Linked DNA regions of Homo sapiens. The protein of the gene in region 5 purifies or fractionates together with the protein of the main gene of each other region. This does not show direct contact. Each region holds a gene or a part of one and is shown on either strand. Other genes may lie near its edges.

The links.
Region 1: the proteins of SLC22A6 (region 5) and SLC25A24 purify together in Homo sapiens (affinity purification with mass spectrometry; 2 studies listed by BioGRID and IntAct, with this or other methods). This does not show direct contact.
Region 2: the proteins of SLC22A6 (region 5) and ERGIC2 purify together in Homo sapiens (affinity purification with mass spectrometry; 2 studies listed by BioGRID and IntAct, with this or other methods). This does not show direct contact.
Region 3: the proteins of SLC22A6 (region 5) and ITPRIP purify together in Homo sapiens (affinity purification with mass spectrometry; one large-scale study listed by BioGRID and IntAct). This does not show direct contact.
Region 4: the proteins of SLC22A6 (region 5) and SLC20A2 purify together in Homo sapiens (affinity purification with mass spectrometry; 2 studies listed by BioGRID and IntAct, with this or other methods). This does not show direct contact.
Region 6: the proteins of SLC22A6 (region 5) and SLC26A2 purify together in Homo sapiens (affinity purification with mass spectrometry; 2 studies listed by BioGRID and IntAct, with this or other methods). This does not show direct contact.
Region 7: the proteins of SLC22A6 (region 5) and PDXDC1 purify together in Homo sapiens (affinity purification with mass spectrometry; 2 studies listed by BioGRID and IntAct, with this or other methods). This does not show direct contact.

Annotation. Positions count from the first base shown.
Region 1 is NC_000001.11:108,137,377-108,141,523, forward strand, and holds part of SLC25A24 (mitochondrial adenyl nucleotide antiporter SLC25A24), read right to left. Parts: intron 1,833-4,147; coding exon 1,682-1,832; intron 1-1,681. UniProt on the Homo sapiens protein: Electroneutral antiporter that mediates the transport of adenyl nucleotides through the inner mitochondrial membrane. Originally identified as an ATP-magnesium/inorganic phosphate antiporter, it also acts as a broad specificity adenyl nucleotide antiporter.
Region 2 is NC_000012.12:29,342,705-29,346,851, forward strand, and holds part of ERGIC2 (endoplasmic reticulum-Golgi intermediate compartment protein 2), read right to left. Parts: intron 2,837-4,147; coding exon 2,739-2,836; intron 579-2,738; coding exon 416-578; intron 1-415. UniProt on the Homo sapiens protein: Possible role in transport between endoplasmic reticulum and Golgi.
Region 3 is NC_000010.11:104,328,199-104,332,345, forward strand, and holds part of ITPRIP (inositol 1,4,5-trisphosphate receptor-interacting protein precursor), read right to left. Parts: intron 795-4,147; exon of another isoform or gene 667-794; intron 60-666; exon of another isoform or gene 58-59; coding exon of another isoform or gene 56-57; intron 1-55. UniProt on the Homo sapiens protein: Enhances Ca(2+)-mediated inhibition of inositol 1,4,5-triphosphate receptor (ITPR) Ca(2+) release.
Region 4 is NC_000008.11:42,415,464-42,418,739, reverse strand, and holds the end of SLC20A2 (sodium-dependent phosphate transporter 2), read left to right. Parts: intron 1-772; coding exon 773-937; 3' UTR 938-2,265; downstream 2,266-3,276. UniProt on the Homo sapiens protein: Sodium-phosphate symporter which preferentially transports the monovalent form of phosphate with a stoichiometry of two sodium ions per phosphate ion.
Region 5 is NC_000011.10:62,981,626-62,986,337, forward strand, and holds the start of SLC22A6 (solute carrier family 22 member 6), read right to left. Parts: upstream 3,343-4,712; 5' UTR 3,066-3,342; coding exon 2,697-3,065; intron 2,423-2,696; coding exon 2,319-2,422; intron 2,067-2,318; coding exon 1,912-2,066; intron 386-1,911; coding exon 217-385; intron 1-216. UniProt on the Homo sapiens protein: Secondary active transporter that functions as a Na(+)-independent organic anion (OA)/dicarboxylate antiporter where the uptake of one molecule of OA into the cell is coupled with an efflux of one molecule of intracellular dicarboxylate such as 2-oxoglutarate or glutarate.
Region 6 is NC_000005.10:149,958,935-149,963,775, forward strand, and holds the start of SLC26A2 (sulfate transporter), read left to right. Parts: upstream 1-1,823; 5' UTR 1,824-2,045; intron 2,046-4,841. UniProt on the Homo sapiens protein: Sulfate transporter which mediates sulfate uptake into chondrocytes in order to maintain adequate sulfation of proteoglycans which is needed for cartilage development.
Region 7 is NC_000016.10:15,035,966-15,039,016, forward strand, and holds the end of PDXDC1 (pyridoxal-dependent decarboxylase domain-containing protein 1), read left to right. Parts: coding exon of another isoform or gene 1-50; coding exon 51-310; 3' UTR 311-2,065; coding exon of another isoform or gene 2,066-2,245; 3' UTR 2,246-2,367; downstream 2,368-3,051. Other genes in the region: NTAN1 (protein N-terminal asparagine amidohydrolase), read right to left, coding at 2,066-2,245, 2,609-2,722.

The DNA.
Region 1 (4,147 bases), on a different chromosome or scaffold from region 5:
GAAATGACCTCAACAAGCAGGAAGAGAAAGCGAAAACCAGTGTTGCTGGCACAACCAAGACAACGGGAGGAGTACCATGTGCTATGGAGATGCAGCCAATTGTTGTATGTGGTTATTACACAGAGAGTGAACAAAGTGGGGCTAGATTATTAAAGGCTTTGAAATTCCCACTAACAACTTTGGAACTGACACCGAAAGGCTGCAAAGATGTCTGAACAGATGTAAAATGATCAGACTTTTAGGTCAGAAATGACAGTCTATCAGCCATAGACAATCTATCAGCCGTATCAGTCATGCAAAGTTCTGGATCAGAGCTGGCAGACAGGAGGGTTAGAATCAGACTGCATGTGTCTGAATTTCAGTCCCACTATTTACCACAGGTATAATCTTGTGGGAGTTACTTAAATTCTCTCTGCCCCAGTTGCTCATCTGAAAAATGGGGATAATGTTAGTATTCCCATCCCCAAGATGGTTATGATGGTGAAATGAGAGAATACACAAGAAACGTGTAGTTCACTACTTTGTGTTTTTCTCTACAGCCATGACTGTCTCTCAGCTCCTTAAATACACCATGTTGGTGCCTGCCTCAGTGTCTTCACACATGCTTTCCCTCAACTGGAATGTTTTCTGTTCCCACTCCACTGGCCTGTGCCCAGCTAACTCCCACTCATCTTTCCAGTCTCAGCTTCACTGACAGCATTCTGCAGCGCCCAAGTTAGGTTATAGCTCCTTGCTCTGTGCTCCCCTAACAAAAGAGGAGTTGGTTTAACCAGGTTGTTTACTTGCTGGACATAACGTCTTCTCTACTCTACACTGGCGGGGCCACACCTGACTTGTTGACTGCTCTACCCCTAGCATCTGGCAGTGTCTAGAATGGGACAATGGCTCAGGGAGTATTTGCCAATTAGTTACTGACTGCTTGGCTGGGGTTGCTGTGGCTGGCACTTGGAAGGGAGGTTGGGAATAGAGCTGTAGATGCCCAAGGTGTACTACTTAAGAAAACAATGGATAAGACTGACCAGGGAAAGCATCAAAGAGAAAAGAAAGGCATTTGAATGCATACTTTAATAGAGTGGGGATAGCAATAAAAGCCAGCAAATGGTAAAAGTTATCAATGGGCTGGCAGAACAACCAGGATGGTACAGTGTAATCAAAGCCAACAATGGAGACTGTCACAGTGAGGAGGAATCACAGCTCAAAACTTGTAGGGTCTACGCAACACTAAAAAATGATTCCAACCACCATTTACCAAAAATTTAACAAACCCAAGATGCTTTATTTATATTGTTGGTAATTCTTACAACACTGTACAATTTTCATTCCCATTAAAAACCCCAAGAAGTCTGAGGCAAGGATCTGAACCCAAATCCATCAGATACTAAAGCTTATAATCTTAAAACGTGCATGTAACACAGTCAAAAAAAATAGTACTCTGTTTATCTATAAGGCATATGTATGCATACAGTACATATGCAATGCTTCTGTCGCATTAAAATTTCATGACGAGGGAGCATTTAGAAAAAGAATTTCTGAAAAGATTCCTTAAGGAGGCAATAATGAAAAAAAGGTTGAGAAATACTGTCTTAAAACTACAGTCTGCATCTTAGTAGAACTTGGAGTTCTAAAAGCACATTACTGGTGCAGCACTTTTATCGGTGTGGTTCTGTAATCAAAAATTCACCTTGAGCCTGCATGCGAGTTCTCACCAAAGCCAATGGGTAGCTGGCCAGCTGACCACAGGTGCTGGATAAGGCACCGCATCCCAGCAACACCATGACTCCAGGGTTTACAGAATCTTTTGCAAAATTATCCAGCCAATAGGACTTCAAGAGCTGCCAGAGAAATAAAGAAGAAAATAATTAACGAACTCTACAACTTCAACGTAAACATTTTCACAGCTATTCTCAACCTCATGAGAAGCCCCGTTTCTGCAGGATGAGGCCACGCATTTGCAGAAGCAGCAGGCACTGCAGGAGGCGGTGACTCTGTGGAGAGGTGGGAGGCCACTGGGGGTGCGGAACACATGAGGTTTGCACCGGTTACTGACATTCTTCTAAACAAACGTGAACTGCGCAGCAAACGCTGCAGGATCTAAAGAACACCTCTTATGGTGAGTATTAATAAAATAATATAATTCTACTAATTGTATCTCATTTTACACGTTACATATATTTCATTTGAGCCTTACAGAAACTCTTACATAAATCTATTATTCTGATTTTAGAAATGAGAAAAATTCATCTCAGCGGAGTTTTTGTTTGTTTTTTTGAGATGGAGTCTCGCTCTTGTCACCCAGGCTGTAGTGCAGTGGCCCAATCTCTGCCTCCCAGGTTCAAACGATTCTTCTGCCTCAGCCTCCTGAGTAGCTTGGATTACAGGCACCCACCACCACGCCCAGCTAATCTTTGTACTGTTAGTAGAGACAGGGTTTCACCATGCTGGCAAGGCTGATCTCAAACTCCTGACCTCAGGTGATCCGCCCGCCTCGGCCTCCCAAAGTGCTGAGATTATAGGCATGAGCCACCACACCAGGCCCAGAGTTTTTTTAAGAAGGACTCAGAACCAGGCGTGCTGATCAAAAGGCCATACTTTATCCCTGTTACTCTAGGTCCCTGTATTTCATTAGAAGGCAATAATTAGGAGAAACTGTATAAAATATATATGATAATCAACTTTTTAAACATAAGATACTTTAAGTATAAAATACATGTTAATATGTTATATAACAAGTTTAACTTTTTAATTTTTTAATCCTGTAAGACTAAAAATTTTAAATCCTACAGGATTAAAAAATTATCTCAATGGATTAAAAAATCCATTGAGTGCATTTCTCAATGGAAATCTTGCAGGTTAGAAGGAAATGGAATGTTATATTCTATGTTTTGAAACTTAAAAAAACTGCCAAACAAAAATACTGTATGGGCAAAACTGCCCTTCAAAAAAGGAGAAATTAAGACTGTCCCTGACAAACAAAAGCTGATACAGCTTATCACCACTAGACCGGCCCTACAAGAAAGGCTAAAAGGAGAAACAAAAGGATGATAAATAGCAACACAAAACCACAAAATATGAAACTCTATGGTAAAGGTCAATATTTAGAATATTATAAAATCCTATAGTATTGTAATGAAGGTATATAAATAACTTGAAAATCTAAATTTCAAAAACAAAATTTAAACAGAATTTAAAGAAGAAAAGCATAAAAAGTAACTATAAATCTATGTTAAGGATATACAATATCAAAAGACATAAAGTTTGTGGGGAGGAGGTGAAATATGTAAAGAAATAGAGTTTTATATACCACTGAAGTTAAGTTGTAAACAGCTTAAAATAAGTTGCTATAACTTTAGTATGCTTTATGTAGTTGCAATGGTAACCACAAAAATAGCATCTATAGAATGCACACAAAGGGAAATGAGAAGGGAATCAGAACATATCACTACAAAAAAAAAAAAAAATCAACAAAACACAGAAGAAGCCAGGAAGAGAGGAAGGGAAAAACAGAAAAGCCACAGGACAAAGATAAAAAGGTAGCTAGCCAAATGACAACAGTAAGTCCTTCCCTATCAGTAACTGCTTTAAATGTAAATGGATTAAATCCCCTAATTAAAAGATATAAATTGCTGAGTGAATAACACATACAGAATCAACTATACCTTATCTATGAGACTCACTTTAGATCTAAGGACACACATAAGCTGAAAGTGAAAGGATGGAAAAAGATATTCCATAAAAACGGGAACCCAAAGAGAAAAGGGGTGGCCATAATTACATCAGACAAAATAGACTTTAAGACACAAACTGTCACAAGAGACAAAGATGGACATTACATAATGATAAATGGGTCACTTTACCAGGAAGAAATTATAACTTCATATGGACCTAATATTAAGCTCCTAAATATATGAAGCAAACACTTACAGAACTGAAGGGAGGAATAAACAGCAACACAGCAATAGTAGTAGACCACCACCCCACTTAATGGTGTTGGGGAGGACATGGAGAAATTGGAATCTTGGTGTACATTGATAGAAATGTTAAAAAACAAAAAGGTCTAGTTACTATGGAAAATGACATGGAGGTTCCTCAAAAACTTAAAAATAGAATTACCATTTGACCCAGAAATTCCACTTCTGAGTATATGTCA
Region 2 (4,147 bases), on a different chromosome or scaffold from region 5:
AAAATGTCTTAAATGCCTTCTAGGCATTTTCATATTTAATCCTATAGCACACTTGCAAATTAGGTATTATTATTGCTATTTTTACTGATTAGAAAACCTCAGAAAAGGTAGGTGATCTATTCCAAGCTACCACCAAGTAAATGACAGAACTTACATTCAATTCTACTTCAATCTGATGTTAACACCCAGGATCTTTCCAACTCACCATTATATAATCTACCTTACATCATTGAATACAATGAAATTAGTTATGTTTACTGGTTAGTCAATATAATTTTGGAGTTTTGTAATTAAAGCAAAAGCTATTTAAACACCGAAACATGAAAATCTGTATACTTCTTGCCCCTTTGAGAAGAAGCAACTTAAGTATAAGCAACACTTTCAGAAATTAGACAAAAAGGAAATGGTTGTTAACCTGTTGTTGAAAAGATTCCTCCAACAATACCACAGAGTCTTACAAAAAACTGCCAGAATGGCATGTGCTCCTCAGTAACTGTCACCATAAGAGAACTGAGATCATATTTCATAAATATCCCAGAGACTCCATGGCTGCCTGCAGCATGGTTAATGATACGTTCCTAAAAGGGAGGCAAAAGGAAGGGGAGAAATAGGAGGAAGAGAGAAACAGAATTCATGTCATCTGGTTACTTACATACATTCAATATTAAGCCCTGAAGCCCTACTGTAAAAGAAGGACATCCACATTTCCTTATGAACTGTCCTACTAGACTAAGCTCTTCAGAGACAAATTATTTTGTATTCTTTGTGTGGTTAGCTTTTGAAACTATCAAAAGAGCAGAATCATTCTTTTTTTCTCAAAAAGGTCACCTTAGATACAAGTTTTCTACTGAGCTCAAGAGCTTACAAATATGTATGGCATGTTCCTCATGCTATAACTAAACTGCAAGCTTTAGGAATACAAATAATGAGGTTAACTACTACCAAGGGAAATTAAAACAGTTTTACGTAGGGCATTACAAAACTCTTTCCCTATTACTAGCACAATACAGCCTTATAAGCCAACTGATCAAGTTTCCAATAAAGTGACTACATCTTAAAGCTCTAAAATGCTCAATATCATGCTGAGTTATAAATATATTGTCACTACCTATAAGGGTAGAAACTGTTTTAGGGATCAGGGCATATACATAATGAAAGACTAATAATGATTCACTTTGGGTTCCAGGACTAATGAATGTCAGCCCTCTCCCTCCCACCCCCTATCCTGCATTTTACCAACCCCAGTTACTCCATTCTTTTTTAAGTTAAAAAACTATTTTAGTCACCCTATCAGTATAAACACATCCTTCAACAGTCAAATGCCCTGGGATTCTATTACATATGTATTTTTGGCTTTGTTATTTTAAAAATATACCCTGGAGATATTTTCCTATCAGTATATAGAAATCCTTCTCATTTGATTTTTAACAATTGCATCTTCCTCCAGTGTGTGTAGATGTACCATCTGGGTTGTTTCTAATCTTCTACTATTACAGATAACAATGCAACGAATAGCCTGAAACACACATTTTTATATTTTTGCCCACCGTATCTTTGGAATAGCTTTCTCGAAGTGCAATTGCTGAGTCAAAGGATAAATGCATAGGTCCTTTTGCAGATACTGCTAAACTACCTTCCTCAAAGATTATGCCACTTTGCATCCCCATAGCACTGCATGTTTGCCTATTTTCCCCAAAGTCTTCTCAACTGTATGTATTGCCTTGAGGTGTTTGCCAATCTTACAGGTGAGAAATGGAATCTCCCTACTCCTTAAAGAAATGTTGAAAAGCACAATATGTTCTGGTATAAACTTTACCTAGTTTCTTTGTGTGAGTGTATATACACACATACCTATACATATATATGCAGTTATATGAACTTGTACTTTCTCCCAAGCCAAGTGAAAAGCTATAGACACATGACACTTCACCCCTAAAAACTCCAATACCTAATCTCATAAGAACAAAAAAAAAAATTCCACAATTATTGAGGGCATGGTCATCATGAGTTATAAGGCTAGTAAAAGAAAACACTATATAAAGGAAAGCAAAATTTTTAAAGCACTTAAATTTTGCCTTAGAATTCTTCTGGATACAAGTGTTTGAATTCACCATTCAAACACAAAAATAAGAAAACATGACCCCAAAGTAGATAAGAAATCTATTAAACTGTCCAATTCCAAAACTTTGCTCATCACTGTCAGTATTTACTTATATGGCCATACCACCCTGAGGTAGTGGAATGTTCTTCATCACAATCAGATGAATACAAAGCATTAATTTAGGAAGGCAAACCCTCTAAATTTGCTATCTAATCCATGATAACCATGTATGCCCAGAGAAGGTAGTACATTTATTAATAAATAAGTAACAGAATTCAAAGAATCTGCTGCCAGATCAAGAACTGCTTATATCAATTTATGAGAAAACATTTATAAAATTAAGACATTAAGAATAAAATAATTAAGGCCATCACAATTTAACAATTTTAAGTCTTAATGCAATAGAAAACCTTTCAGATTTTTTAAATATCTACTTTTATTGCTTTAGAATATACTAATATTCATTTCTGACATATTTCTGATTTAAAATAAAATGTTAATTCATTTCAAAACTTCCACAGATTTTTAAATGAGGGAAGACACCAAGTAAAACACCACCTTATTTTGTAGCCAGGAAACTTTAAAATGCTTTTTTAAAAAAATCACCAAATTATTTTACCGGTTGGATTCAACTTACCCTTTCTGTCACAGAAAACTGATGGGTGTCTGCTGATATTTTATATGTATGTAGTTTTGTTGGCACAACTGTAATAAAATATTGGAACATCTGGTTGTCTAGAATACAAAAAAAACTTTTTATCAATTCAGTAGCAACAAAACTACTGCCAAATATATTCTTCTATTAAACACATTTAACCTGAAATTTAGCTGGATGTGGTGGCTCACACCTGTAATCTCAGCACTTTGGGAGGCTGACGAAGGAGGACTGCTTGAGTGTGGGAGTTCAAGAACAGTCTCGAACTTGAGTCTGGGAGTTCGCGACCAGTCTGGTCAAGAGAGCCAGACCCTGTCTCTACAAAAAATTTAAAAATTAACTGGGCATGGTGGTATGCACCTGTGGGTCCCAGCTGTTCAGGAGGCTGAGGCAGGAGGATCATATGAGCCCAGGAAGTCAAGGCTGCAGTGAGCCATGATTGTGCTACTGCACTCCAGCCTGGGCAACAGAGCAAGAACCTGTCTCAAACAAATAAAAAATAAAAACATTTAATCTGAAATGTAATGTTACATACAACTTAATGTCTAACAAAAAAAATTTTTAAAAGAACCAATGAAAGCAACATATTTATACTCGGTAAAACAAGTTCTCAGCAAGCATAAGATGGGCAACACAGATGTTTAAAAAAATGAATTGGTGACTTAGTTAAATATTCCTTAAAATCGTTAACATCCTTTTATCAATTATGGAAAAGTAGCATTTTTCTTTTTCCTTTTTTTTTTTTTGAGATAGGGTCTCACTCCATCGCCCAGGCTGGAGTGCAGTGGCGCAATCACGGCTCACTGCAGCCTTGACTTCCTGGGCTCCAGCAATCCTCCCGCCTCAGCCTCCTGCGTAGCTGGGACTACAATGCACGCCACCAAGCCCAACTAAATTTTTTTCATTTTTAGTAGAGACAGGGTTTTGCCATGTCGCCCAGGCTGGTCTCAAACTCCTGGGCTCAAGTGATCCTCCTGCCTCAGTCTCCCAAAGCGCTGGGATTATAGGTGTGAGCCACTGCACCCAGCCAGCATTTCTTTATAGTACAGAAACTAAGAATAAAATAAAATTATAAGAGAATAACCACCACAAGACATATTTTCAGTTTCTACTAATATCTTAAGATATACACTAAACCAAAATCAAATTAGCTAGCCTTTGAATAAATACAAGGAACTGATATTACAGTAGGAAGAAAACTAAAGAAACTACTCAATGATGGCCTGGGGTTACTGTATAATCAAAAGGATCATTTTTATACAGTCATTAGGCATCTCTAAGTTTGACACAAGTTTTAAATACCAGAATATTACCAATTACTAATTAACTGTAAACAATTACCCATTCACATAATATAAAACATGTTAATTCTCCGGGTCTAGAGAATTCTC
Region 3 (4,147 bases), on a different chromosome or scaffold from region 5:
CTATGCGTGAATCACAGTGACAGCAATGCGCCCTCACCACTTCCCGTTGTCCTACATTGGCTTGGTCTGGGCTCGTATTCCTCCGAATTTCCCCTAGCCCTGTGGCCGCATCTCACCCACAAGGGTGCTGGTTTGGAGAGAGCATGAATACCCACCTTGGGGCAGGACATGCCAGAGTTCCCAAGAGTCGTCCCCTTTCTCTCTCTCCACCCCATGATCTACACACCCCCTGCCTCCAAGCAGAGCCACAAACGTTCAGGCAAAACCACACTTTCTCAGTGGGACAGGGAGGGGAGGCTGCACGCTTAGACGCAGGCTCTGCACAATAGCAGACACACTGACTCAATGGAAAGGGGAAGGGACTGGAACAGAACCGGGAGTAAACACAAAGGAAAACAAGGAGGGAACAAAGCCCTCCCTTGGCCACTCCCCGCCCCCTTCCACTTTCCCCCTTTCACTGAGAAACTAGGATGGATGGAATTAAATAAAGGGCCAGCACCCAGCAGCCACCTTCTGTTTGACCCCTGGATGGGAACAAAGAGAGCCCAGCTTAGAAAGACACTCTGCCTCTAGGAGATGGGGGAGGATGAACCCCCCAAGGCCTTGTCCACGACCTCGGAAAGGCTTGTTCCCCACCTCAGCCTCCCCACCCCACTGGTCTCTTACCCACGTCCTGGCTTCCTGAGATTCTAGGCCCCACACAGTGAAAGAAATCCCAGACTGTTCTTCTACCCGAGTCCCCCTGCGGCTTAGGCGGTACCTGACACAAAGCCTGGGCCCCAGCTGGGCTGGGGAGAGCGGGGAGGGGAGAGGAAGAGAAGCGCTGTGGGCCTCCTGCACGCATGCACACACACACACACACACACACATACACACATGCACGCACACACACACTCTCCCTGCAAAGATCTAAAAACCCCTTTCATCTCAATAAAGGGGAACAGTAACAGACACAAAGACAAAGGGGAGGCCAGCCCAGCTGTAAAAAAAATTAAGAGCGTCTTTGCTTGTGCTCTGCTGCAAGGATCTGGGCTGAACAATAGAGCCGGGCCTCTGCCAGCCCTCCCACACCAGTTAGTCAGAGCAAACCAGTCCTCCTCCTCTCTGGAGAGCAGAGGGCCCACATGGTAAGGCTAGGAACAGTTAGCAAAATTGCTCCCAGAAGTACCTATGACTACTCAGAGTCACACTCTCTACGGATTGCACAAAACAACCCTACTATGACATCATTTTCTAGTCACAGGGACGGAGCAATAAGGTGTGATGCGGGTGCTCCACCGAGGCTGTGCTGGCACCCAGTAGGTGTCCAAATAATGCCTGCTGAATGCATGGACCCATGACTCATATGTGCGTCAGTCAGACTGAGGTGGGCAGCAAGCAGCCACTGATAGTGTCAAGTTCACACAGGCTCATTTCCACTCCTACTGTCACCGAGAAAGAAACAGCCCAAAGCTCATCAGCTAAGAAGAGCTTAACAGTTTGCAGAGGCTTAGAGAACCATTGCTAAGGAGTCAAACTCTGGAATCAGAAGGCCTGGGTTTGAATCTTGGCTCTACAACTTGCTATGGCAATAGTGTCCAATTTATGGCCTTGTGGACCATCTCACAGTCACTCGGCAGTGCTTGGTAAATGATACTGCTGTTGGCACTGGTACTGGTGCTGCGGTCATGTCTCCTTTTTGATTTGTTAAATCGTCATGGTTGCATGTTAAGGAGTCCTCTGGGAAGAAGTGGGTGAACAACATCCCTGCAGCTCCTCCAGAAGCCTGGGGAGTATGACTAAGTTGTCTCCTCCACCTCCTTGTCTTCTTCTAAAGGCCCCAGGGGCTGACACAGAGGAAGAGGAGGAAGTTTGGAGACCTAGGAAGGTCAGCAGCACCCTCCCTTACTCCCTCCAATCTGGCATCATTGACACTGACAGCTCTTCCATTAGGTTCTGAGTACCCAGCTTTGGAAGAGGGTAGTTGCTATAATGAATGCTTGCTGAATACATGAATGGAGTTAGGATTGGGAAAAGAACCTCACTGCCTTTACTCCCAGGAGCAGGAATTTGAAATTCCTGGAGTGAAGTGGAAAGCTCTGGATAAAGTAACTTCTACATTCTTTCTTCCTGGGAGGGGCACTGCAGTCAGAAAAACAAAGTGCTAACAGTGTAAGTGCCTTGGAAAATCCCTTCCAGCAAAATCCCTTCCAGACGTAGCCCTGGAGACAGAGACGGTTGCAGCCCCGTTTGGTCTGGACTGGCCTTCATGTAACTGCAGGCAGACTCACTGCCAACGTTTAGAAAATGGCCCAGGAATGAACCCTGACACGTTTTCTGACCCTCAGCTGCCTTGCCGTGGACACCTCCCTTCTTGCTCAAGCTTCTTGTAGAAATAAACAGAGGATTACAGAGTAAGAGAAGGAGCAGAGAAGTAATTCTTCTTTCAGGAAAAAACTGGACAAGCCTCAGGGCCCTGACACACCATGGGAGGGTTTAATGAATTACAACCACTGCATCCCATTTATTGAGGCTTAAGCATTGCACAATAAAGCTTTACATGTATCATTCTCACATCAAACCTCTGAGGCAGGCACTTATCTCCATTTTACAGATAAGGCAACTGAGGCACAGAGGTGAGGCCACTCACCAACATCATAGAGCCAGGATCTGAATCCAAACCTATCTGACTTTCAAGCCTATACTCTTCCCATGAAGCCACGAGCTGTGCTGCTCAGTGACCTGGTATCTGTGAAACATTAGACATGTACCTATGGACTTTCCTCACCCGGACTGTTTAGGGAAGGGTAGGTGACAATCTAGATGAAATGTGGGCATGAAGCAGGGAGTAAAACCTAATGAACTTATGAGACTCCTTCTACCAAGATTCTGTGAGTGTGGCCTGGGCTATTTGAGATAAAAGGAATGGAAAGCCTTCTCTGCAAAAAAGGGAGTGAGGGCTCTCTTGACACTGGCAGGTAGGCATGTGTTGGGGTGAAATGTCAGGAAGCGGCATGGGTACATTAGGGACATTTTGGGGCAGCACACAGGGGTAGGACCCAGGCAGCCCCTGCTCTCCTACCCTCCAGCCCAGGCATGCTGCACCCCTGCCTCCTTGGGAACTTTGGAACAAAGTCTCAGCAAACAAAGGACGCGTTCGTAAACTTCAGGCGGGTCCCCCGGCTGCTGCTAAGAGGCTATTGAAGCCGGCTCCCATGAGAACAGTATGTTATGAGCACATGGTTTTGCACTAGCGGGCAGGGCCAAAATAATGACAACACCTTCCCTGCTGCTTTGATACAGGAGGAGGGGGCGAGAGTTGGGGGGACTCCTGCATCAGCTTCAGGGAAATGACCTAGAAGGGAGAGAAAGCAGTAGCAGCCCAGGGTTGCTTCCAAGCTGAGCCCCTCTTCCCAGGCAGTGAGTGTCCCACTGTGTTATGCACCTGGAAGTGAGTCATTTGATAATTGCGGGGCTTTGTATTTTTCCTAGGGACTTCCAGCAGAGGACTGCAAAGTGCTCTGAATATTATCAGGAACTGGTTGTTACTGTGCCTATTAAACAGAAAAGCAAACAGTGCTGGAAGGGAAAGCCTTTCCTTCCTTTCACCCTCAGATAGCTCAGGCCACACTCACAGAATCTCTTGGCAGAAGGAGTCTCCAAAGCTCACTAGGTCTGCTAATATCAGAGTGAGACAGCAGGAAGGGACCAGAAGTCTCAGGCCTGGAGTTGGTGGTCTGCTTGCTGTTTTCTCAGTATTGACACTTAAAACTTTGTGGGATTCTTTATGCCATCTGTATGTGTTCTGGGCTACAGTGTCCAGACAGACGCCTGAGGTGGCAGAAAGAGTCCAAGGCCCTGGGAGAGAGCAAATCTAAATTCGAATCTCTTCTCTGTTGTTGTCCGTTTGGGGCAAGTCCCTCTGAGTCTGTTCTTTCACCTGTAAAACTAGGATAACACCCACCTTGAAGGGCCATTGTGAGGAGGAGAAATAAATATGTGTAAACCCCTAGAATGGGGCTTTGCTCAGTAAATGAAGCCACTATTTTTTTTTAATAAGGCCATTCTACTTATATGAACAATGTCATATCCATAACGGTGGATTCTGCAGATTAATGATACTCTAATTTTTATTTATAAACCTGAAAAAGCTAGGTGCATACAAGAA
Region 4 (3,276 bases), on a different chromosome or scaffold from region 5:
GGCGGAAGCCACCGCGCACGGCCGGGAATATTATTTTTAAAGCCAAAATCCAACCTGGGCACAGTGGCTCACGCCTGTAATCCCAGCACTTTGGGAGGCTGAGGCGGGCCGATCACTTGAGGCCAGGAGTTTGAGACCAGCCTGACCAACATGGCGAAACCCCATCTCTACTAAAAAATATGAAAATTAGCTGGATGTGGTGGTGCTTGCCTGTAATCCCACCTACTCAGGAGGCTGAGACAGGAGAATCGCTTGAACCTGGGAGACATAGCTTGCAGTGAGCTGAGATTGCACCACTGTACTCCAGCACTTTGGGAGGCCAAGGAGGGAGGGTCACTTGAGGTGAGGAGTTCCACATCAGCGTGGCCAACATGGTGAAACCCCGTCTCTACTAAAAATATGAAAATTAGCCAAGGGTGATGGCATGCGCCTGTAATCTCAGCTGCTCAGGAGGCTGAGGCAGGAGAATTGCTTGAACCTGGGAGATGGAGGTTGCAGTAAGCTGAGATCACACCACTGCACTCCAGCCTGGGTGAAGAGTGAGACTGTCTCAAAACAACTATATAAAACAACTATATAAAGAGCTATATGCTGAAGAGAAGAATCCCCAAACAATTCTACCTAAAATCTAAGCTATTTTAAAAGCTTTAACAAATGTAGGGGACTGGGTAATGTTGTACTAGAGCTTGTTTCTGAGATTAGCCCATGTACATTGGTAGAGTGTAGCCTTTGTGGCTCACCTGTTTTTACTTTGCAATGTCTGCTCCCACAGGTGGGCTCGGTGGTGGCCGTGGGCTGGATCCGCTCCCGCAAGGCTGTGGACTGGCGCCTCTTTCGGAACATCTTCGTGGCCTGGTTCGTGACCGTCCCTGTGGCTGGGCTGTTCAGCGCTGCTGTCATGGCTCTTCTCATGTATGGGATCCTTCCATATGTGTGATTTGTCTTCTTCCAGCTGCAAACAGCTAAAGGGATGGTCTGGTGTTGGCGTGTGGGAGACATGTGTGCTCGTGCCGCACATACACATCCTGGCCGTGCACGGCTCTCTCATGACCAGCTCTCTGCCTCCCTTCCAGGAGGCTCCATCCCACACTGTTCACCCAGGCTGCGGAGACTCACCTTCCCGAGCTAACTTAACTACTGTACATAATAATATGTATTAAACTGGTATCGTGGTGATATAATGTGGTGCAGTTACTTATATATTAAATATCTATTGTATCCATAGAATAGGCAGCATTATTTCAAACATATTCAAGTTGGGAGTGGAGATCATTGCCTAGAAGTCAATATTCAATAAATCTTGTACATAACTATTTCGATGGCAAATGTTAAGCCTTCTAAAAGGAAAGTGTAGATTGGAAAATGATTTTTTTTCCAAATGATGTTTTTGCCTTCTAATATACTGTAAGGTAATGAGCTTCAGAACAGGCAACCTGACCCTGCAGAGGTCGCGTGCTGTGGGATGACAGCGGGACGGGAGCTCACAAGTGCTTTCACTGAAGATTTGTTCATATACTGTGTATTGATTGTTGTGTAATATATCATCATTGCTTTTGTAAATACGTAAAACTGTAATTTTTTAATGGTGTGCTTCCCTTATACTTTTTTGATCAGAGAATTTTGGAAAGTACCAAAGAAGCAGGGGAATCATTGGCCAGTGTTACGTTTTCACATTGTCTGTCTCCCACCCTCACTGATCACGCCTGCCCCAGAGCAGTGTGTGGCGGTGACACCGTCACCCAGCATGCGCCACGCCGTGGCTCCCACCAGCAGTGCCACCGCCACCACACCCCAGATCCCACCCACCTTGCAGTGGCCTTTCCTTGTCATCAGAGTAGAGAATGCACAGGTGTTGGTGAGGGCGTGTGGCTGAGCACTACATGTCAAGTCCAGAGTCAGTTTCTATCCCAATTCTCCCTGCAGCCTGAAGAACGGATCCTTGTCTCCAATGTCAGCACAAAGGAGGCTTTTTCTGTGCTTTGACATTCTAGCACTTCAGGGATGAGAGGGAGGGAGAATCCTGGATGCTGGATGGAGTATTTCTCTGAGGCCCACACAAAGCTGGACACCCCCAGGCTCTACTCCATCCCATTGGAGTCTCTTCTTTTTTTGATAGCGGGAGGGAGGAAGTACGACTAATGTTGGAGCCTGAAACTATGGAAATGCTGCTAAAATTTTTATATTGACAAACATTTTCTTGGTACTTCATTGTCATTTTTCATTAATCAACCATATTAAATTTATAATAAAAAATGCCCCTCAGAAGTTTGCCTCTGAAGCCTTTTTCTCAATATTGACAATTTTTCTTTCAGAGTGAGTTTCCACAAAAACCAAAGCTATATAATTTGGCCCTTGTATTTTTCACATACCTTTTTTTGGTTTCCCTTATTTGACTACTGTTACGGGCTTGTACAGAAAACACAGGTGAGCAGGAAAGGGAGGCACGGCGTCCCCGCCCCGCATTCAGAAACCCGCAGTCAGCAGCTCATGGAGCAGTCGGTTGCCATGTTCAGGGCTGAGGACCCAGCAGGGAAGTGCAGGTCTTATCCTTTGCTCAAGCAGCCAAAAACACCCTGGCTTGCATATTCTGGAGCCCCCAGAGGGAAACCCCTTAATCCTCTGTAGCGGTGGTGGCACAAGCTCCGACTCCCTTAGGAGCTGTGAAGGTGACAGATGAGGCAAAGTGGCAGGTGTGAAAAATGCATCTTGTGGCCGGGCACGGTGGCTCACGCCTGTAATCCCAACACTTTGTGAGGCTGAGGTGGGCGGATCATGAGGTCAGAAGATGGAAACCTTCCTGGCCAACATAGTGAAACCCCATCTCTACTAAAATACAAAAAAATTAGCCTGGCGTGGTGGCATGCGCCTGTAGTCCCAGCTACTTGGGAGGCTGAGGCAGGGGAATTGCTTGAACCCGGGAGGCGGAGGTTGCAGTGAGCCAAGATCACGCCACTGCACGCTAGCCTGCCGACAGAGAAAGACTCCATCTCAAAAAAAAAAAAAAAAAAAATGCATCTCCACTAAGAGCCCTGCCCTTTCTGGTGTTTAAAATGGCACCTTCAGCCCTTCATTTCCGCACTTCAAGTAACAGCACAACACAATGCAGGTGAACCTTGTGCAGCCTAAGCAGTCTGCGGGATTCAGGCAGAGACGCTAGCCACCCCTGTCCAGGGAGGAGGGCTGCCACCTGGGAGCCCCGGCCCGGCCCAGCAGGCAGGACAGCAGAGGCAGCATCTTGGGGTGAGAGGGAAACAGGCCACACTCACCACATTGAGC
Region 5 (4,712 bases):
AGAACGGAGTGGGGGAAGCCAGAGAATTGGATATCCTGGGGCAAAGCCTTCTCCCCACAGCCTTGGTTTCCCTATCTGTCACACAGAGGCATTGGACTGGGTTTGACCTTCTCTACATTTGTGGGATGGGATGTGTGCTGAGCTCTGGGAGATGTCCTGTCCCTTGCAGCCTCTGGGCTCCTGTGGCAACCACCTCCAACCCTAGGCCCCACGCACCAGGAGTAGATGAAGAAGGCAAAAAAAGGCGCAGAGACCAGTAGCTGCAGGTGGCGCCAGTGGGGCACAGCGTAGGCCACACCAGCCAGGAGGAACTGGCCCAGGCTGTAGACATAGCCAATCAAGGTGCCCACGCAGGCCCGTGTGTGAATGGGCATCCACTCCACATCTGGAAAGAGGGTTAAGACAGGATGCTGCAACTACCTGGGCTGCTGGGCTAGTAAAGGCCCCTCCCTCCATCCAAACCTTGGCCTGTCCCAAGGCTCAGTGGAAAATGCATCGAGTAAGTTGAGTGCCAGGGTGATGGGAGTGGGGGAATTTCAGTGGAGGTATGGATGAGGAGCTGGGTTCAGAATATCTGGGAACTGCCCCCTCCACACTCTTGATTTTTTTTTTTTTTCTGCTCCTCCTCAACCTATTCTCCTGGCTAGAGTTCCTTCTCCATTGAGAGCACCTCTGGCCACTTGGTCTGTCTTCAGCAGCAACCATTCCTCTGGTCTTCCTCAGCTATGGGCTGGATTCCACTCTCAGTGGCCAGAGCATCTTGGAGGAGGCAGTGGCTTTTCTCCATCCTGGAGTCTTGAAGTAGGAGTGGGACCACCTCTCTGGTGTGGTCTGGAGAGGCCTACCTCCTGTCCAGGTGGGCTCCCCATTGGGCTGCTGGGACAGGGACTTGGATACTTAGGCTGGACTTGGGGGTTGGATTTCTTAGGTGTCTTGCCCAGGCTCTAGCCCAGTCCCGGTTAATTCCTCTAGTCCAGAGAATCCCAAATCCCTGGATTCCCTTCTGTGGTTGAGGAATGCCCTTGGGTAAATCCTTTCCCTTCTTCTTGGCCTTGGATTCCTCATTTGGGAAACATGGGGTAAGCGGGGGTTGATCCATCAGAGGATGCTCATCAATGGCCCATGGAGAGACCACACTCAGTCCACAAATGTGTCTTGTCTGCACGATGCTGCCTCATCCTATGTTTATTATTAGAGTTAATTGCAAACATGAAAAAAAACTGGGTTATTTTACATTAATCAAAGAGGAGGGGGAAGCTATGACAGCCCTAGGATCTCCTGCCTGGAGCAGCTGCATGCCTGTAGTGTCTCTGGATGAAGGTGTCTCTCCTTTGAATACAGTTCTCACCATTCCCTAATGCCTCCTGCACCTGGCCGTCTTACATGATCTGCTGGCTCTAACAATGGAGTTTGCAATCCTGCTTTTTTTTTTTTTTTGAGACAGAGTCTCGCTCTATTGCCCAGGCTGGAGTGCAGTGGCGCAATCTCCGCTCACTGAAAGCTCCGCCTCCCGGGTTCACGCCATTCTCCTGCCTCAGCCTCCCGAGTAGCTGGGACTACAGGCGCCTGCCATCACACCTGGCTAATTTTTTGTATTTTTAGTAGAGACGGGGTTTCACCATGTTAGCCAGGATGGTCTCGATCTCCTGACCTCGTGATCTGCCCGCCTCGGCCTCCGAAAGTGCTGGGATTACAGGTGTGAGCCACTGCGCCTGGCCCGCAATCCTGTTTTTAAATGAGGGGTCAGGGCGGCATGAGCCTGAGAAAAGGTTGTTCTATTGGCAGGAAGGTGAGACCCGAGAGAGGCTGGAGGGCAGGCAGGGCTCAGGAGGGGCAGGCTGGGAGGGGAGGCTGGAAAGGGGTTGCTGGGCTGGGTGGCCGGAGGGGAGTGGGCTGGTAAGAATCTCTCACTCAGTGTCATGCAGTTGAGGGAGATGCCAGCCAGAGCCATGCCCGAGAGGAGCCGGAAGGCGCAGTAGATGGGGAAGTTGGGTGCGAAGGCTGCGCAGGTCCCTGACACAGCTGTCTGCAGGTAGTTCAAGATGAGTACCTTCCGGCGGCCTAGCCTGTGGGAGGAGGGGAGACTTGTAGCAGGGCCCTGGAGACTGATGGGGGTCAGGCTGAGCCAGGAGAGGAGGGCTCACCCTGGATGATGCCTGGGCTGGGGCCTTTTGAGGACCTCTGAAGTATGAGGCTGGTGCTGTAGATCCTCAAACCAGCGCCGGCTGGCAATGCCAAGCTCCCACCTAGACACCCTGAGCCCAGCTGAGCCCCTAATCCCAGCCCAGCCCAGCCCCTTGACCCTACCCAGGACTGACCTGTCTGCAAGGTAGCCGAACACCATGGCTCCGAGCAGCACCCCCACCATGTACAAGGACTGGGCCAGCTGGCGTAGGGCCCTGTGAGAGCACACAAGGTCCCACTGTGGGGAGAGGAGCAAGGGTCAGGCAGAGATGAGCCTGGCTTCAGAGAATCCCCTTCCCCCACTTCAGCTGGTCCTCTGGGGTCCATGTCACCCTCTTCCTCCGGCACTTTGCCCTTTGCCTCTCTGGTCCTGACAGCTGAGAGCATTTTTCTTTTTAACTCAGCAGTTAAAAAACTCAGCAGTTAATTTCTCCATGTACTTTTTTTTTTTTTTTAACAAAGGCCCCCATCTTCCCATCTTGGCCCCTGGATGGGGAGCCCCAGGTGCTCACCTCAGTCACGATGGTAGATGGGAAGGTGCTGTTGTCATAGATCCAGCCATCGGTGCAGGGCTCTGTGGCCCCTGTGCCATTGGCTTCTGTGCCATTGAGAAAGGGCAGTCCCCACTGCGGGGAGGTGAAGCGGAGGCAGGACTCAGGCTGCCCCTGCCTGTCCCGGGGCAGCCAGACCTCCAGCCCCCCGTTCTTGCTGAGGTTGGCATCGGCAGGCGGGCGGCAGTGGTGGGTAGGGATGGCAGCAGTGAAGTTCTGCAGGGTGTTGTGAGAAGCCATCAGGAGCAGGGGGAGGACCACCAGGGTGACCTGGATCTGCTGGAAGCGGCCGACACCCCCCACCTGCTGCAGGAGGTCATTAAAGGCCATTGGGCCAGGCCCAGCCCAGTGGCTGGGGGCTGAGGCCTTCCAGTCCCAGGACCTCTGTCTGTCTGCCTGCCTGCTGTCCTTCGCTGGAGGAGCAGCACTGCCGTTGCCTCCGCAGCTGGGTTGCTCCGGGAGCTGAGTCCGAGCTGCTCTGTGGGGGGACAGCAGCCTCCTTGGCTGCTCCTCCTTCTTCCCCGGTCTCCCTGATCTGTCCCTCCCTTTTCCCTTGCAGCTTCTCCTCACTTTGGGGGTCAGGGCAGCTCAGCTTTCAGGGTCTGCTGGAGACCTGACCCTTGCATGGGCAGTTTTTAATCCTTGGCCTGGAGGGAATGAGTTAAAGTGTGACTTGGTATCAGAAGGATTAACCCTCCAAGGATTCCTTGTGTCAGTGGAATTTCTCCAAGTGGTTATAAAGGGCAGGAGAGGGTGGACTGAATAGGAGCAGGGAGAGGGGTGTATTAGGGGGGCATCTGGGGGCAGGGGGGGCCAGAGTGGGATCTATTGGACCTATTTGTCTTCCTTTTAGGAAGGAGACTGGGCTCTGGGAAGTGTGGTGGCCTCTTGAGGAGTTTCTGCCCTTTTTAGTGGATGAGATCCAAATAGTCTGCTTTTGGGAAGGGTTGCCAGGGAAATTACAGGGTGCCCAGTCAAATTTGCATTTTAGGTCAATGAAGAGTTTTTAAAAGTATGAGTATGTCTCTAATATTGCATGAGACATACTTATACTAAGCAATTCTTCATTGATTTGAAATGCAAATTTGACTGGGCACCCTGTATCTTTATTTGCTAAATGTGACAACCCCAGTCTTTGTTCTTCTGGGGACAGCTCACATCTTATAGAACCATGGTTTTATTCATTTGGAAGAAACAACAGAAGTCAGAGGCCGCTCTTGGAGTGGGACCTAAGACCAACGTCATACACAATGTCGGGTGATTCTTCCAGTGATTCTTCTGACCCTTCCAAGGGTCAGATTTTTCCCTTAGTCATATTGTCTTCTGTCCATAGTGTCTTTTTTCTTTTCTTTTCTTCTTGTTTTCTTCTCTTCTCCCCTCCCCTCCCCTCCTTTGTCACCTCCCCTTCGCTCCCCTCCCCTCTCCTCCCCTCTTCTCTTCTCTTCTCCTCTCTTCTCTTTCTTTTTGAGACACAGTCTCACTCTGTTGCCCAGGCTGGAGTGCAATGGTGCAATCTCAGCTCACTGCAACCTCTGCCTCCCAGGTTCAAGTGATTATCATGCCTCAACCTCCCGAGTAGCTGGGATTATGGGCATGTGCTACCACGCCTGGCTAATTTTTGTTATTTTTAGTAGAGATGGGGTGTCACCATGTTGGCCAGGCTGGTCTCGAACTCCTGACTTCAGGTGATCTGCCCATCTCAGCCTCCCAAAGTGCTGGGATTATAGGCGTGAGACACCATGCCTGGCCTCTTTAATTTATTTTTGAGATAGGGTCTCACTCTGTCATCCAGCCTGGAGTGTAGTGGCACAATCTTGGCACACTGCAGCCTTGACCTCTCCAGGCTCAGATTATCTTCCCAGTTCAGCCTCCTGAGTAGCTAGAACTACATGTGTGCACCAGCACACATGTATTTATTTATTTTTAAGAGATGTGGTTTTGCTATGTTGCCCAGGCTGGTCTTGAACTCCTGGGCTC
Region 6 (4,841 bases), on a different chromosome or scaffold from region 5:
TCAAGTGGCTTATAGGCATGAACCACCATGCCCGGCCAAATTTGGCCAATCTTTATTGGTGCCTGTTATATGCAAGGTCCTGGCTTCCCCACACAGACAAGAAAACAAACAAATAAATGAATAAATGTCAGCTGCAAGGATTGGAGTGGATTCTTGCATTTGCATAGCACAGTGAGTGTAGTGGTTAAGAGTGGGCTTTGCAGTCAGACGTGACTGTGTTAAAATCATGCTACTGTCACTTATTAACTGTGGGACGTTGGGCAGATCACCTAACATCTCTGAGCCTCATTTCCTCACCAAAAAAAAGAAGAATCATAATATGGCACCTCCTCTAAAGCTGTTGTGAGGATTAACTCATGTAATGAATGTGAAGAGTTCTGCGCAGGCACGTGATAAACATCCAGAAACTGTTTATTCTGCTTGTTGTGCAGTCTTTAGGGCTTAAACAAAGTACTTTACACTGATTGCCTTACCTGACCCTCTCCAGGACTCTGGGTGCTAGGGCATTAACTACCCTTTGAAAGGTGAAAACATTGATGCCCATTGAGGTGAAATGATTTGTCTTCAGCCACAAGGGGCAGCATCAGGAGTAGAACCCAAGTGTTTGTGTTCTGATTCCCAAGACAGCTTATGACGTTTTGGAAACTCTGAATCTGATGGGTGACAGAAACTTGGGGATCATCTCTAGATAAGAAAGGGAGTTCCTTGAATGACTGTGAAGACGTTCACCGGAAAGGGAAGGAAAGGAAGTTAATCATGCTTCCTTCACAGGCCCTCCTTCACCCCCATCTAGTGGGCACATGCAAGCTACAAACAAGGTGAGGAATGAACAAATTAATACATACTCAATAGTGGCCAGTTCGAGGCAGATAATTAAATCAAGATGACCTGAAAGGATGTGACTGGCTGTGGCTAGTTTACACAGGGTGGTCAGGGACGGCCTCGCCATGGAGAGGGCTGGTGTTTTGGCTGAGACCTGAGAGACCAGAAGAAATCTGATGGCCAGAACCAATGTTTAGGTCCCTAAAGAGAACAAGCGTGGCGAGCAAAGGGGGCCAGTATGGGTGGAGATCAGCGAGGGAGGGGGGCAGAGATGAGTGCCCGAAGCACACAGTACCTTGGCATAGGGAGGGTTTGATTTTACCTACAAATGCCATTAAACCCACTAAGGATTTTAACAAAAACTACAATTACATTTTAATTTACATTTTATGTTTTATAGAGACAAGGTTCGGCTATACTGCCCAGGTTGATCTCGAACCCCTGGGTTCAAGCGATCCTCCCTACTCGGTCCCCCAAAGTGCTGGGATTACAAGCGTGAGCCGCTGCGCCCGGCCTTTTAATTTACATTTTAGCCTTCCGGTTACTGGAATCTTTGATGGGGAATGAGTTATAGTGAGGCAAGAGCCTCTAACATTCTAGGAGCTCTTTTCCCGTTCGGGGCCTCAATTTCCCGTTCTACAAAGGCGGGTGGGAGGGAACGGGGTCCCAAGTAGTACTGGATAAAGAGGTGGCCGATCGCAAACGCTGAGCACTTCAAAACTCTGGGCAGAGCGCTTCCGCGCCTCTCCTGCTATTTCACCCTGGCCACAGGCTAGCCGCCGAGGCCGGTCATCCGCTCTCTCCGCGGAGGAGTCAACGCCACGGAAGCAGCGGCGGAACCTCTCTAAGAATCCTTCCAGCTTGTGCTCTTCTGTCCAGGGCAGCCAATCGCGAGGAGGAGAGTAGTCAGAGGGCGGCACCCTCCCCGGTCTGGGCCGAGTTATTGGCTGGTGGTAGCGTCGCTCGCCCGGCAGTACCACGTGACGGCCTCGGCCGCGGGCGTTTACACTGGCTCTGCCTCCGGCATCTCTTCGCCGGTGCGTCCTCGCCGCGCCCGTAGGTCCCGGCAGCCGGGCCCCGCCTCCTTCGGAGTCCGAGCGATGGGCGGGGAAAGGGACAGGCAGGTATAGCTCTGTCGGCGCCGCGGTGTCCACCTCAGTCAGGCCACGGTGGAAGACGCGTGCCGCGGCGCCTGGTTGCCTGCAGCGGCCCGGACCCGAGAGGTGAGAAGAGGGAAGCGGACCAGGGAAGAGGGAGGGAGCGGTGCTGGCCGCCAAGCGGTCAGCGGGCCCCTCCCAGAGTCATTCTGCCTGGGTCCCCGCGCGGTAGAATCCCAGATCAGGGGTCGCCGCCGTGGAGCGGGGCGTGCGTCAGGTTATTTCCCGGGTGGTCCGGGGCCGGGCGAGTGGCACTGCACCCTGGTGATCCGGGCCTGCCCGTCTGGCTGGCGGCTGCCCACCCGCCCTCCATCCCGCGTATCTCGCCGTATCTCGCCGGGTGCCACGCACTCCGCTGCTTTTCCAGTCCTCGTTGATCCGTCTCGAACCTAGATATCTGGAATAGGGATCGAGGAGATAGGAGCCACCACCACCTCGGACAGATGGGGAAACTGAGGCCGGCACAGGCGAGACGGCTTGGTTATCTTGGTTATTAAAAATCACACACCCGATTAAGTACAAAATCAGGACCTGTTCTTTCGGACTCACACACTAAGTTGGTATTATTTCACTGGATGGATGGAAACACTGAGAAGACAGAGAGGGCCCAGAGCCTTGCCTAAAAATACACAGCAAGTCTTTTGCAGAGCTAGGACTTGTACCCAGCTCTCCAAACTCATAGACTATCAGCCTGGGCTCCTTCCTTGCACAGATTGGGGATCACAGTGAGTTAGAAACATTCAGAACTTAAATTGCCTTCCGGCGCCCATTCTAGTTAACCTGTCTTTTCTCCTTGTCCCCAACAGTTCTTTATGTGAAATCTACAACTAATGTGATATGCAATACTAGATTAAGCAGAACTTTTTGTTTTTGAAAATTGAATCAATAAGAAATGGAGGGCCAAAGCTGTGGGAAAGGAATGGACCCTTTAAAATCAGGAATCTCAAGGCAGGATATAGCAAGGGACAGAGACTAATAGCTGTCGTTTATTGAGTAAATGCTATGTGCCAGGCACTGTGGTAGGTAGTTGTGTTAGCCTTACAAACCAGCAAGTTAGGTAATGTTACCCCATTTTACAGGTCAGAAATTGATGCTGAGTACAGTGAAGTTTTACAAAACCATTGCCATATGACTGCTGAGCAGTATAGCTGGGATCTGAACAGAGATCTGTTTGACTTCCAGAACACATCCAGTGATTCTCCAAGTGTGGTCCTAAGCTCACTCGTTCAGCATCATCTAGCGTGTGGAGTCCTGGATCTCATCCTTGGATTTGCAGGGATGGTCCTAAGAAGCTAACGGCTCTCTGTATTTGACAATTATTGTACTGTAATGTGCTGCCTCCTAGGGGAAGATCTAGAGGTGAACATACTCTGGGCTAGGGGTAATTTTTGAGGGAAAAAAATCACTTTTTTTTAATTTCTGATTTGACTTTTTTTTTTTTTGAGACCAGGTCTTACTCTGTCATCCGGGCTAGGAGTGCAGGGGCGCGATCTAGGCTCACTGCAGCATTGACCTCGTGGGTTCAAGCAAACCTTCCACCTCAGCTTCCTGAGTAGCTGGAACCACAGGTGCACGCTGCCATACCTGGCTAGTTTTTGTAGTTTTTGTAGAGATGGTGTTTCACCATGTTGCCCAGTCAGGTTTCAAACTCCTGAGCTCAAGCAATCCTCCTGCCTTGGCCTTCCAAAGTGCTGGGATTACAGGCATGAGCCACTGTGCCCTGCCCACACTTTTATTTTTTATTTTCCCCCATGATTGACAGAAGGATAATCACGCTTTTAGTGAATGTAAACCCCCAGGCAGATGCTTGCCAAGCTTAATTTCTTGACATAAGCTTGGTTTTGGCATGTGGGGGCGGAAGAGTGGGGTTGGAGAGTTAAGTGAGAATGGGGAAAGTAACTCCTTTTTCCTTATCATATAGCTGTTAAATTCTAATTCACTCAACAGATACTTGCTAAGCATTTATTAGGTGCAAGACATGTTCAAGACACTGAGAATACAGCTTTGAACAAAACAGAGCAAGTCAGTGCCCTCATGTGAAAGACAATTAACAATGTGTGGTATGGAATGGTGAGAAGAGCTATGGAGAAAAATAAAGGGCATAGGAGTGCAAGGCAGGGCTGGGCCCAGGAGGAAGACATGGAAATGGCAGCAATGGCAGTGGTGCTATATTTATTTATTTATTTATTTATTTATTTATTTATTTATTTTTTGAGATGGAGTTTCACTCTTGTTGCCCAGGCTGGAGTGCGGTGGCGCCATCTTGGCTCACTGCAATCTCTGCCTCCTGGGTTCAAGTGATTCTCCTTTGTCAGCCTCCCAAGTAGCTGGGATTACAGGCACATGCCACCACGCCTGGCTAATTTTTTTTTTTTTCTTTTTTTGAGACAGAGTCTCACTTTGTCTCCAGGCCGGAGTGCAGTGGCGTGATCTTGGCTCACTGCAACCTCTGCCTCCCAGGTTCAGGTGATTCTCCTGCCTCAGCCTCCTGAGTAGCTGGGACCACAGGCATGTGCCACCACGTCCGGCTAATCTTTTTATTTTTAGTAGAGACGGGGTTTCACCATGTTGGCCAGGATGGTCTCAATTTCATGACCTCGTGATCCGCCTGCCTCCGCCTCCCAAAGTACTGGGATTACAAGCGTGAGCCACCGCGCCTGGCCTAATTTTTTGTATTTTTTAGTAGAGAGGGGGTTTCACCATGTTGGCCAGGCTGGTCTCGAACTCCTGGCCTCAGGTGATCCACCTGCCTTGGCCCCCCAAAGTGCTAGGATTACAGGCATGAGCCCCTGCACCCGGCCTGCTATTTTGCATATTTGTTTAACTTTTTTTTTTTTTTTTTTTTTTTTGTGGAGACAAGAT
Region 7 (3,051 bases), on a different chromosome or scaffold from region 5:
CAGAAGTATCCTCACTGAGTTTCAGCGCAGTCTGTCTGCCCTTTCTGTAGGCCAGAAGCCTTTTAAAAGGTCCCTGCGAGGTTCAGATGCTTTGAGTGAGACCAGCTCAGTCAGTCACATTGAAGACTTAGAAAAGGTGGAGCGCCTATCCAGTGGGCCGGAGCAGATCACCCTCGAGGCCAGCAGCACTGAGGGACACCCAGGGGCTCCCAGCCCTCAGCACACCGACCAGACCGAGGCCTTCCAGAAAGGGGTCCCACACCCAGAAGATGACCACTCACAGGTAGAAGGACCGGAGAGCTTAAGATGAGACTCATTGTGTGGTTTGAGACTGTACTGAGTATTGTTTCAGGGAAGATGAAGTTCTATTGGAAATGTGAACTGTGCCACATACTAATATAAATTACTGTTGTTTGTGCTTCACTGGGATTTTGGCACAAATATGTGCCTGAAAGGTAGGCTTTCTAGGAGGGGAGTCAGCTTGTCTAACTTCATGTACATGTAGAACCACGTTTGCTGTCCTACTACGACTTTTCCCTAAGTTACCATAAACACATTTTATTCACAAAAAACACTTCGAATTTCAAGTGTCTACCAGTAGCACCCTTGCTCTTTCTAAACATAAGCCTAAGTATATGAGGTTGCCCGTGGCAACTTTTTGGTAAAACAGCTTTTCATTAGCACTCTCCAGGTTCTCTGCAACACTTCACAGAGGCGAGACTGGCTGTATCCTTTGCTGTCGGTCTTTAGTACGATCAAGTTGCAATATACAGTGGGACTGCTAGACTTGAAGGAGAGCAGTGATTGTGGGATTGTAAATAAGAGCATCAGAAGCCCTCCCCAGCTACTGCTCTTCGTGGAGACTTAGTAAGGACTGTGTCTACTTGAGCTGTGGCAAGGCTGCTGTCTGGGACTGTCCTCTGCCACAAGGCCATTTCTCCCATTATATACCGTTTGTAAAGAGAAACTGTAAAGTCTCCTCCTGACCATATATTTTTAAATACTGGCAAAGCTTTTAAAATTGGCACACAAGTACAGACTGTGCTCATTTCTGTTTAGTATCTGAAAACCTGATAGATGCTACCCTTAAGAGCTTGCTCTTCCGTGTGCTACGTAGCACCCACCTGGTTAAAATCTGAAAACAAGTACCCCTTTGACCTGTCTCCCACTGAAGCTTCTACTGCCCTGGCAGCTCGCCTGGGCCCAACTCAGAAACAGGAGCCAGCAGAGCACTCTCTCACGCTGATCCAGCCGGGCACCCTGCTTAAGTCAGTAGAAGCTCGCTGGCACTGCCCGTTCCTACTTTTCCGAAGTACTGCGTCACTTTGTCGTAAGTAATGGCCCCTGTGCCTTCTTAATCCAGCAGTCAAGCTTTTGGGAGACCTGAAAATGGGAAAATTCACACTGGGTTTCTGGACTGTAGTATTGGAAGCCTTAGTTATAGTATATTAAGCCTATAATTATACTCTGATTTGATGGGATTTTTGACATTTACACTTGTCAAAATGCAGGGGGTTTTTTTTGGTGCAGATGATTAAACAGTCTTCCCTATTTGGTGCAATGAAGTATAGCAGATAAAATGGGGGAGGGGTAAATTATCACCTTCAAGAAAATTACATGTTTTTATATATATTTGGAATTGTTAAATTGGTTTTGCTGAAACATTTCACCCTTGAGATATTATTTGAATGTTGGTTTCAATAAAGGTTCTTGAAATTGTTACCAGTGAATTCAGTTTATAAATCTTATTACAAAAGACTTACCCACGTACCTGAAATAGCTGCCGATAGACCAGTGAGAGGTAGGTTCTCCTCTGCCCGTTATTACCGACCAAAAAAAAAACTGGACATCAATTTTTTAGTAAACCAAAAAATAAGTCTCAACAAATGCCTTTGCCAAAATAAGGTTTTATTTTGAAAGTCATTTGATGAAAGTCATTTGAAAGACACTGAGGAGGGAAGGAGGCCTAAGACCCAACAGATGTAGGATCCAGATCTGGATTCGTGCCAGCCCCACCAATGGTCTGTCAGGCCAAGAAGGTGCTTTCTTTGGTAATTCATGTTTTTTAACTTCCTGGAGAAGAGATCTTTTCCCACAAGCCATCTTCATTTTTTTTGTAGAGTAGGGCTTTATTTCCAGAAAACAGTGTGTGAGCTGGAGATGGGTGTTTTTTTAAAAACATCAAGGTAGATCTAATATGTTCAACAAAGTGGGGTGGCTCAGCCAGAGGCGAAGTGGAAAGATTCTGAAAACACAAGATGGTGGGCATTAGAGAAGCCAACCTTACTGTCCCCTGCTGTGATAAAGATGTCAAAGTATCTTTGTTCTTGGACACAAATATATATAATAAAATACGTTAAGAAATGAGGTGGCCTGAATTAGTAAGAAAAAAGTTGATTGCTTACTGCTTTACCCACACACATTTCCATCTAGGACTTGACATATCCCCATTTGATATACAAGTTAAATGGGGTCTGTCAATGGCATCCAAAAAGTTACTACCCGCCAAAGGGAAAGCAGCTATGACCTGGTCTAAACCCTTTTTTTCTTACAGATGGGGAAACCAGGGTGCAGAGATTTAAGACTTACCCAGCCTGTAAACTCTCACCTCTAGTATTTGCTTGTCATCTTGGTGCAACCAGAAATCCACATGTGGAAATGGTGTCCAGGAGTACGGTCCTATACGAAGTTGTTCTGTCTCTGCATCATAAATGCTAATCATCTAAAAAAGAACGTGTCAAGGATAGAATTTCAGGAATGTCACCCACTTTTCAAACCCTCCCAGTAACGCAAGCTCCAGTGTAGTCCTTTCATGCATTTATCTGCCTAAGCTTCTTAAAACCTGTCTCAAATAACAAAAGCTGCCAGCTACTGAACACGTCCAGTGTGTCTGCTTCTGCACACTGTGGGGCACGCACGACTGCTGAGCGCCAACAGCAGTCCCACAGGACGAGGGTGTTTTTTCCCATTTGGGGTGAAAACTTGAGGCTCAGAGAAACAAGGCCCATTTCCCAGGTTACGTGTCCAGTAAGCCTCAGAGCTGGACCTCAA